Linked DNA regions of Homo sapiens: region 2 is linked to region 1. Evidence: fine-mapped expression QTL. A gene starts in region 1. The other region holds a variant in brackets. All regions are shown on one strand. Distances are from middle to middle.

What was found. PIP is the estimated chance that this variant, and not a neighbour inherited with it, causes the effect.
Region 2: its variant is fine-mapped to the expression of PNP in macrophages (Nedelec 2016, PIP 0.95).

The regions. Positions count from the first base shown.
Region 1 is chr14:20,466,439-20,471,818 of GRCh38, reverse strand. It overlaps PNP (purine nucleoside phosphorylase), which reads right to left and starts at 2,413. Exons shown (of 6, transcript NM_000270.4): 1 at 2,284-2,413. The coding sequence starts at 2,294. RefSeq lists enhancers at 1,722-1,851, 1,882-1,951, 2,142-2,646 and a silencer at 2,362-2,481.
Region 2 is chr14:20,854,609-20,859,988 of GRCh38, reverse strand. No RefSeq gene overlaps it. Among named protein-coding and RNA genes, the nearest start is that of RNASE3, 34 kb to the left of the region's middle. The variant G/TGTGTGTGTGTGTGTGTG (reference allele first, on the strand shown) is at 2,887.

The DNA of each region.
Region 1 (5,380 bases):
CTGTTCCCCAAAGACATTCAAAATGTAATTAAGACCAACTACTATGAAGGCAGAGATAAACTCAAATTTCCTTTTGAACCCTCATTCCTCCAGTTCCTTCCTCAGCCAAAGACTTAAGGGCTACATTTCTTTTTTGTTTTAACCAATAAAACACAATGGGACCACCCCTGGTAGAGGTCTACGTGCCATTCTTAGCTCCCTGGATCACAAGGGGGTTAATTCCAGACAAAAAACTAGATAAACTGCTGTACAAAAAAGCAGACCCAGTCCACAGTACTGGTTGTCAAAGGTTAAACCAGGACTGACTACACAAATTCTCAGCAGAAGCTTGTTAGAAAAACAGATTCTGGCACTCCAGCCTGGTGACAGAGTGAGACCCTATAAAAAACACACACACACACACACACAAAACCCCCACAAAAAACAGATTCTGAAGCCCATGTAATTTTGATTTTAAAACCAGGTTTAGGGGCTGGGCGCGGTGGCTCATGCCTGTAACCCCAGCACTTTGGGAGGCCGAGGTGGGCGGATCACGAGGTCAGGAGATCGAGACCATCCTGGCTAACATGTTGAAACCCCGTCTCTACTAAAAATACAAAAAAAAAAAAAAAAAAAAAAAAATTAGCCGGGCGTGGTGGCGGGCCCCTGTAGTCCTAGCTACACGGGAGGCTGAGGCAGTAGAATGGTGTGAACCCGGGAGGCAGAGGTTGCAGTGAGCCAAGATCGCTCCACTGAACTCCAGCCTGGGAGACAGAGCGAGACTCCGACTCCAAAATAAATAAATAAAAATAAAATAAAATAAAACCAGGTTTAGGAATTGCTGGTCTGGAGGGAAGCAGAATTCGACCTAGATTCTAGTCCCAATATTGTCTTTTTAGGCATGTAATTTGTGCTTTAAATTATTTTCTCAGGTATAAACAAGGGATGTAAATTGGCCCCATCTATCTTATAGGCTCAATCTGAAAATGAATTGAATACTTGCTAACAACTTCCAAAGACCTATGGCTCTGTTACACAAAGTATTTGAATCTTTCTCCTGCTTTCCACCTGCCTGTGGTCTTCTTCCTGTCCTTCCCCCTCCCTGCCTCCTCCCAGTTTCCTTTCTCTCCACCGAGGATCTTTGCTCTTCAGAAACCTCAGGGCACTTACCCAGAACCCCTACACTAGCAAGAATCAACCCGTGTTACTTTTCTCCCAGTTCCAAGTCCAGTTCTCTCACATCCATCTGGGAAGACCAAACGTTGCTTTCAGAGGTGGCAATGAGGTGTGACAGAGCTGAACACAACTAACCAAGCTTTCACAGGAAATTTTTTACTTGGAAAGCAGAGCCCGGGAAACCAGACATGATTGCACAATACACCAGGCTACCCTCAGGGAAGCAGTTGGATCAGGTAGGTTGGGGGCTGGTCAACGGAGCCACAGGACAATGGAGAGAAGCAATTAAGCTGGTAAAATGTTAATCAAATGGCATCCCCAAAAGGTGCAAAGGAAATGAATGTGTGAAGCTGCCGCCACATGGCATGTCTAGCCACATCTCACAGCACTTCCTCATTGGCTATCAGTCCCCTCAAGAACACCCTGGCTCCCTGGGCATCCAAAAGCAACTGTGATGCCTAATGCAGGTCACTTGGACTGGGATATCCAGGACCCAAGCCGAGAGAAGAGTTTTCAAAGGCGTGGGGTGGGGGAAGTGAGCACAGGACTGTTGCTCAGTTCGGTGACTGATTTCCGTCTCCACTTAGCAGTCACTTCCCACCGAGTTAATCATACTGCCAGTCTGGAAGGAAGGGAGGAGTGCAACTGGCAAAGGAGGTGAGTAATCTTGCCTCTAAAGGAGGAACTCCGAATTTGAGCACCAAAAGTACCTCGCAGCTTTACCCAGACCCTAGCATGGGAATTTATGAAGAGCGCAGGGGGTGAGGAGACCTCCTCCTGGTATGGAGTGAGGGATATATACATATACTCACTCTCCACTTGTTCCCCTAACACACACACGGAGACACACAACGGCTGCTTTTACGGAGTAGCTTAGACCGCACCGACCTGTCCCCTTCCTGCTCCGGTGGCGCCACCCCAGCTCGATTCCCGCGTGCGTCCCTGCCCGCGCTGGCTGCCGCATGACTCTGCCGCCTTGCTCCCGACACTAGGCTCAGTGCCAGGCCTCTCTGCATCCCCTGGGCGCTCGCTCCCTCCGCCAGCTCCCTCTGGGCCCAGTGTGCCAGGTTCCCGGGTCACAGCACCTGCCCCTCCCCAAGGGTCCTGCGGGCCTGGTGCCCTCCTCACCCGTTCTCCATGGTCTCGCAGACGCCTTCTCGATGAGCCTGCTCCGGTGTGCTCCGATCCGCTCCGATCCGATCGGATCCGCTCCGCTATGCTGAACTGAGCAAGGCTGCCGGGTCTGGTTCGCACAGTTGGCTCACTGGTCTAGGCTCTGGCTTATATCCCTTGCCCTGGAGTCCCCAGCCAATGGCAAGCGAGCACGCGGGCCGGCCCTGTCTCCATGGTGACACACCCTAATTCAATCGGCTGAACCTGGGCTGTAAACCTAATCAGAGTTCTTCCCAGCCCTAAACCTTCTGCCCCGGGGCGGGCGGGGGGAGCCGGAGCGCACCCAGCATTTCATCTCGGTACCCATTCCAGTCCGCAGGGCAGGAGTTCCCAGCAAGAAGGCCTATGCGGAAATAGGGCTAGAAGTAGGGAGGAGAGCCCCCAGCCCTCTCCTTGCAACCTCATTCCAGCTGTGTCAATAGCAAACCGTGAGAGATTCAAAAAGGAAAAATTTCATACCTTAGATTGTACAACCCCAGAATAAAAATGAAGCGAGACTGTGTCTGAGTTGCTCCCTGGACAAGGGAAGCTGGGTCGCCCCCGGCAACAGTGCTAACTTGGAGGATACAGGGTTTAGGAGAGCACATCCAGGCCCAGACCGGGAGAAGAAAAAGTTCTCAGGCAAGAATTCCGGGGTCCTAGATGCCGACAGAAAGGATAAGGATGGATTTGGTGGGTAGGGACACAGATAATCCCTTGATCTGCGCAATATTGATCCAAGCAATTCAGGTAACTAGAGGACTCCTCCCACGAAGAAAATTCTGTTATCGGAATACACGGGTACCAGAATATAACATAAATAGCGTGTCTTTGGTAGAATACAACTATTACTTCTGCCCACATTTACAATTTAATTTTTACATTTAATTTACATTTTTACATTAAATTTACATTTAATTTTTAATTTAAAAAATTAAAAAAAAATTTATATATAAAGGCCAGGCGCGGTGGCTCACGCCGGTAATCCCAGCACTTTGGGAGGCCGAGGTGGGTGGATCACCTGAGGTCAGGTGTCGGAGACCAGCCTGGCCAACAAGGCAAAACCCCATCTGTACTAAAAATACAAAAAATTAGCTGGGCGTGGTGGCAGGCGCCTGTAATCCCAGCTACTTGGGAGGCTGAGGCAGGGAGAATGGCTTGAACCCGGGAGGTGGAGGTTGCAGTGACCTGAGATCACACCATTGCACTCCAGCCTGGGCAACAGAGTGAGTAGCTGGTTCCTGAGAACTTACTAGCACTTTGAAAATAACAATGCACACAAATTGAAAAAAAAATTTCGTTCTTAAATAACCACAAACAGTTACTTACGGGATATGTACATCTGTTTGGCACTACTCAACTTCTCACATGCAGGAATCCAATGCTGCCACCCTCATTTTCTGTTCCATGCTGATTTTTACACAGTACTTTTTTTTTTTACTTAATACTTAATTTTTATCAGAGGGACCTTCTAAAACCATCTTTTGTAAAGATATGTTGTCTTTATATATATATATATTTTTGAGACAGGGTTTCACTCTGTAACCCAGGCTGGAGTACAGTAGCACGATCTTGCCTCACTGCAATCTCTGCTGCCTGGGTTTGAGCCATTCTTTTGCCTCAGCCTCCCGAGTAGCTGGGATTACAGGTGCCTGCCACCATGCCTGGCTAATTTTTGTATTTTTAGTAGAGACGGGGTTTTGCCATATTGGCCAAGCTGGCCTTGAACTCCTGACTTCAACTGATCTGCCCACCTCGGCCTCTCAAAGTGCTGAGAGTATAGGCATGAGCTACCACACCTGGCCAGATATATTGTCATCAAAAGGAATGTAGCACAATCTAATGTTCCAACTGTGAATCACCTCAAGTTAATAGGTCACACAGTGTTTAAGAAATATAAAATATTGCTGTGTTTCCTCTGAAAATTAAAAATATTCCACAATACCCTTGTGAGCTTGTACTTTGGCACAGTTTGGGAACCATGGCCCCAGTCACTCCATGCCACCTCATTCCTGAATCTATGTAGTGTAAATGAATGGGCTCTAATAAAACTACCTGTGTATGAATGCCATCTTCACCCCTTATTTACTCGTGTGATTCTAGGCAAGTAAAATTCTTATTATGCTTCAATTTTTTCATCTGTAAAATAGCAATAATCTTAGTATTTTTGCAAGGATTATACAGAATACCTTTTACATGTTTAGGTAAATGCCTGGATATATAATAAGCACACATTAAATGCTGGCTATTATGATTAATCTCCATTGTCTCTTTCTCTTTTGTTCTTTCTAGACTCACCTAACCATAAATTGAATCAAAATAAAAACTAGAGGTATATCCAGCCTATCAATACCAATGAATCCCACACTGTTCAAAACAGAAGGCACTAGCCATGTGTGGCTATTTAAAAGTAATAAAATTAATTAAGATGAAATATAATAAAAATAATTCAGTTACCTAATCATACTAATTACATTGTAACTTCTCGATAGTCACATGTGGTTAGTGGCTACCATATTGCATAGCATAATTACGTTTTTATGCTAGAGCACAGCACTGTTCTTATCTTTTCTAGTCACTGCCACCTTGTATCCACATAAAAGAAACTGGAACTGTGCTTTATTATTTACTTTTAGGGTAAAAGAGTTCCTGTAGCATTCCTATAGACAGGAACCAGACGATCATCAATCTTAGTGTGATTAGAGTTCATTAATGCCTTATTACCTTTTCTTCTATCTTCTCATCACTTCTATCTTCAGAGGGACTCCTTGTCCAGGAACATACTTAGTAACACACTTACCCTCCACCCGCAAGATCAAGGAAACTAAAAAAAAGTGGCAGGAATAGGTTCTAAGTCACTCAGTATTGCCTTGTGGAACGTATTTTATTCCTGCCCTCTCAACTGAGATCTCTTATTCTCTCTAGATCACAAGCTAAATATGCGGTTTTAAAAATATCTATCCCTGGCCAGGCACAGTGCCTCAGACCTGTAATCCCAGCACTTTGGGAAGCCAAGACAGGAGGATTACTTGAGCCCAGGAGTTTGAGACCAGCCTGAGCAACATGGTGAAGT
Region 2 (5,380 bases), 390 kb before region 1:
TCCCCTCTTCTTACTATAGTGGAGGTGGCACATTCACCTAGAATTTTGGGCTCCTCTTCTGAGTAGTAGGTGATACTAATAGAAGAATATTTGGAATTCCAGGATTTGCTCAGAGAACTCTTGGCTAATTTTTATGGGGTGAATCTACTTCTTTCTCCCAGTGCATCCTCCTCAAGAAAAATGCTTCACCTACTGGATAACTAGAATTTCCTCTTTGTTGTCTTTCAGAAGGCTGCTTGGTAACACACACTAGTCAGGAAACCACTACTTTTGAAACAATATTTTTCTCCAAGAATTATTATTATTGACTCTTCCCTTTGTCTTCTGTCATTCTTAAGAAGGCAAAGCTAGGTTTTAGGAGGAAAGCTTGGGCGTTGTCTGAAAACAGATACAGATATCATTAAAAGTCTTGTGGGACCTAAGCAAAGTGCCTGTCCCATCTGAGCCACTAAGAAGCAATACCATGGCCTGTATTAGCTGCAGAAAGGCCCTTAAAAATAAGGCAGTCAGTACTAGAAAAGGCAAAGGAATTTGTTAAGCTGCCACTGCAAGCAAATGACAGGACAGAAACCAAACCCAGGGTGCTCTGCCCGACTAGTTCCATGACTATATGGGAAATAAAGCCACATATACAAAATCACATGGTGTATATAGCTGTGAAAAAGCTAGCATGACATTAGCTTTTTTAGGTAACAAGGCTAAGCTTATTGTCAGACCTGATGCATTTTCATCTTTTGATGCATATGAACTTTCTTTTCTACAGGATTAGGGGATAGAGAGAGGTAACTACAGAGTATGCCCACTATTCTATGGAGAATATTTCCTCTTTAGGTTTGCTGTGTCCAGAGTCTTAGCTTTAATTTAATTAAGAGATCACCAGGAAAAAGACACACGTATTCATCCATGTCTCCCTAGCACCTGGATCTGCATTTGACATGAGGTGGACTTCTGTGTTTATTATTCCCCATCTTCCTATCCAGCTGGAAAGTGGGTCTTACCTCTGTGTGTAAAACAAGATCTATCACTCCCAAACCACATGTGCACACACACACACACACACACACACACACTATGAACTGAGTGCCCACAGGAAAGATACTTATTGGTCAGTCATCCTTACCCAGCACACTGGACACCTGGATTTAAGTAAGTTCATGATGATGGAGAAAATGGAGAAAGTGAATTGAATTATTTGTAAGTCCATGCTTATGGAAAAATGAGGAAAGAAATAGAATTATTTAGTCTGAAGCTCAGAAAGTGAAGACTTTAAATCATACTTACCATGCTTACAAGGGTGATTGTAGGATATAATATAATGAACAAGAATAAATCTTTAAGACAGGGACAGATCATGCTTGAACATGTTATTTAGGTCAAGAGATCTCCATCTTCACTATAGACTAAAGGAGAAGAGATGAATGTAAACTAGGGAGGCTTAGACAAACCTAGGAAGTTTCCAGGGAATCTGCTGTCTCTAGACTTGACAAAGGGGCAAAAAACACCTCTCTCTTTACTCTTCTGATTCTTTGTATCCATTGGAGGGGGAAGGTGGACTGTGTCACTGAAGACCTTTCATCTCTGAGTCACAGTAAACATCCCAAGAAAGCAGTCCAAAATGATATCCTGAGAAGTCTACTTGAAGTCAAGTAAAATAATAATTAATGTGTACAACTATATCCTAGGCTTAACCTCAAACCTGTGTAGCTAAATGGGAGAGTTAAGAGAAGGGAGAAAAGGTGAAAATCGTACTGTGTTAGCATCCGGCCACCAAATAGAGGCAAATAAAGGAGATACTTGCTTTTTAATCCTGGTGCCAAGGTCTCTGGATAGAAAAGGCTGGTGTAAGTCAGGTGTTGTGGGAGGAATTTGCCTCTGAGGGATGGACAGTGGTTCACATGGCCAGATCAGGCAGCAGATGTGTGCCGATGCTGGCGAAGCCTTCGTCCTTACAAGAGACAAGTCAAAGAGACCCGAAGTAATGAAGAGAATGCAGAGGGTGGAGCCTCCAGCAAGCACGAGTTGAGGAGTAGTCTGGGGTTGTGAAGATGGGTATTTTTACAAAAGCAACCACATTTGAATTTGTATCTTTGATGAGAATTTTTGCACACTGAGTCTTGATGTCCTCAAAAAAGAAAATACAATAATAGGAGAGCGCCCCCTGCCGGCAAGCAGTGAGCTAGGCATCTCTACCTCTGAGCCTGATTGACCCGGCTCCCCTTCCTCGGTTTAGAAGGTGCACAGAAACCTTAGCTGAGCTGCTTCTGTTTCATTCTTGAGGGCGTGGGGGTTTTCATGGCGGTCCGGATCTTCTGTGCCTGGAGTCAGCCTAGGTTCACCATGCTGCCTCTCCTCTGCATTTTTCCTCCCCTCCAACTTCGCCCTCAGTCTCTCTCCAATCTCAACTTTGCCACACTTTTCAAGAGGCAATTTATTTTCACCAAATTTCAGGGTTCTCAAAAGACAGTAAGATTAAGTTTGGCTTCATACACTTCCTCCTTTCCATTCTGCAGATATCCTAAGGAATTGCAAAAGGGTCTGGCTCTCTGCTTGGAACTAGAGGCATGAGGAAAATACAAAGAGAAGAAAGAAAAAGTAGTATCTCAGCAAACTATCCTGCCTCACATATGTTCTTTAATTTTCTTGCTGGAAAATCTCTGGGCCCTGTCTCTATGCTCTTTCCATCTCAGGGTCCAGAATAGGGAGAATATGAAATTATATCCATGTGGGTGTAATATCAAATTTACCTTGAACCCCAGTATTAGATCCTGACTTGCAAAGACAATCTCTGAAAAGGTAAAGGGGTCTGTATGTTGGGCGCCTCAGTTGCTCTTTCCTGGCCTAACTTAAAGAAGGGCTTTGAAGTGTGTGTGGTGTGTGTGTGTGTGA[G/TGTGTGTGTGTGTGTGTG]AGAGAGAGAGAGAGAGAGAGAGAGAAAGAGAGAACCTTAACTGGGAAAGGGGCTGATTTTTTTGATGATTATCTCTTCCTCAGTCTCAATGTGGATGGGGAAATTTCCACTGTGTGGTAGCATTCGTGAGAACCACCCTTTCTACTCATTGCCAAAAGTTAGAAGTTATTGTTGTACAGATTTTTGTTAGTTGGGAAACAAGATAATTCTATAAAAATGTGGAATATTTCTATTAGAATCATTTAAAAAACAAATGCCCTTAGACTGTGTCTTTTTGCTCTCACTACTATGTGTGATCATGAATTCACAAACACTCCTGATTTTTCTGAAGTAGTGGTCTACAAACTCTAACATAAACCAGGATCTCCTGGATTAGCATTCTCTAATAAGCTGGAAGTTTATTAGGTAAAAACACAAAAATACGTGAGGCCTACTACTAATAATACAAGTCAGAGTATCTCCAGATTATTGACTCTGGGATGTCCAAGTCAGTACACATTGTTGAAGACAGAAACACACTTGTGCTACAATAAAATGTGAGCCATGTAATACAATAGATTAGGGGCCAGCCTGGCCAATATAGCAAAACCCCATCTCTACTAAAAATACAAAAAATTAGCCGGGTGTGGTGGCGCATGCCTGTAATCCCAGCTACTCAGGAGGCTGAGGCAGGAGAATCGCTTAAACCTGGGAGGCGAAGGTTGCAGTGAGCCAAGATCGCGCCACTGCACTCTAGTCTGGGTGACAGAGTGAGACTCCATCTCAAAAAAAAAAAAATAGATTAGGGGATATGAAATATCTGAAAGGAAGAAAAGGAGCCAAGAAAAGGAAAGGAGGAAAGAAGAATACAAGGGGATACAAACAATAAGCACATGAGAAGATGAAGTTTCCAGTGTGGCAGATACTCTCTTCCTTCCCTAATGCCTGGAATCTGGCTGTGCGTGGAGAAAGATGAAAGGCTCTGTCTAGTGAGTCCACTGGACTAGAAGCTCCCTGGGACTAGGTTATGTGTTTTGCATCTCCAGTACCTAGCGGTCTGCCTGGCACAGAGTCTATGCTCAGAAAGTGTTTCATTGATGAATGGAGAGACAGGTAGTACATTAGCATGCTGAGTTTGCAAAAAGTCATTAAATGTGTAAATTAGAATGTTCTACCAATTATATGTTATACTACCCTCTGTTCTATATCTCAGTGATCGTCTGTCTGAATTTCCCGCTTTGAACACTAGATGTCCTCTGGGACTGACACCATGACCAGACCCTAGCGATTCAAATCTCTCACCAGCGCTCTCCTGCTGAGGGCTGGGTCCTGTTTCAGAACTTCTGTCAATGGACTGCTCACTGAAACATTACCCTGGCTCCCACGTGACTTATAGCGTTAGCCAGTGCTTGAAACCTACTCCCCCACTGGGTTGGTTCTTCTAGAATTCTGATATTAGCCTCAATCTACTAGGCATTTTACTTTGGACTGCTGACCATCCACCTTGGGAATGAGCTCTTTAGCCAGTTCAGTCAATCCTACCAAGAACTGGCTTCTTCCTTTACTCAGTGACCTATCTCAAGGGTTTCCATGGGACCAAGAGTCATGTGGGAGCATGACAGAGGGAGTGTTGGAAGATGCATTTGTATCTTCAGTATCCTAATGCATCCTCTGGAAATTGGTGGTGTGATGGAATGTTTGATTCTAATTCATACTAATGTATGGCTACGATAGTTACCATGCCTTTACAAAGGGCAATCTGAAAAGTCACTAGGACCTTCTAAGAGAGTTAAAATGGAGCCATTTCTCTCACTTGGTTTGTGCTTCTTTTCCTCTCCTGAATAGTGAATTTCAAAGTTCTTTCATTCCTCTTTACTTTAGAAGACAATGTTGTAGGACCCCTAATCCCGCAAGGTGCTGTAAAGGGGGAGAAAGGGGTCAAGTAAATTTACTGATTAACATTAGTCAATAGTTACCACCTTATGAGGCTTTAAAAAGAATAACCAAAATAGACACTGAAACCATTCTGAGGAGGTAAAAGTAAATAAAGCCGTCTCCCCCGTGACCTTCATTTCATTTCCATTTTGTTCTCCTGATAGTGATTTTTAAGGGTCCCTAATCCTCTTGTATCCTAGAGGGCCAATACTACAGGAACACTGATCCTACTGGATGCTCTGTTGAGGAGAAAGAGTGATTCTTCCATAGGACCCATTCAAATACATTTAGGAAATCTGCTTCCCGTAGTTGGTTCTTAGATATTTACAGTGCCTCTTAGAACATGAAAAGCTCTGTAATAAATTCTATTTATGTCAACTTTTTTCTTTATTTACAAATGTTTAGGCCCTGGAAGACCTTTCCCTATAACTCCTGATAAACTTTGGGAAATGCTCTTGAAATATTTCATGATCCCCTTTGGAGGCTGCAGTTCTTTCCCTCCTCATGTTTGCTGTTCAGTCCAGTGTAATCTTGGTGTCACACTAGGTAGTGAACCTGACATTACACACGATGCCAGTA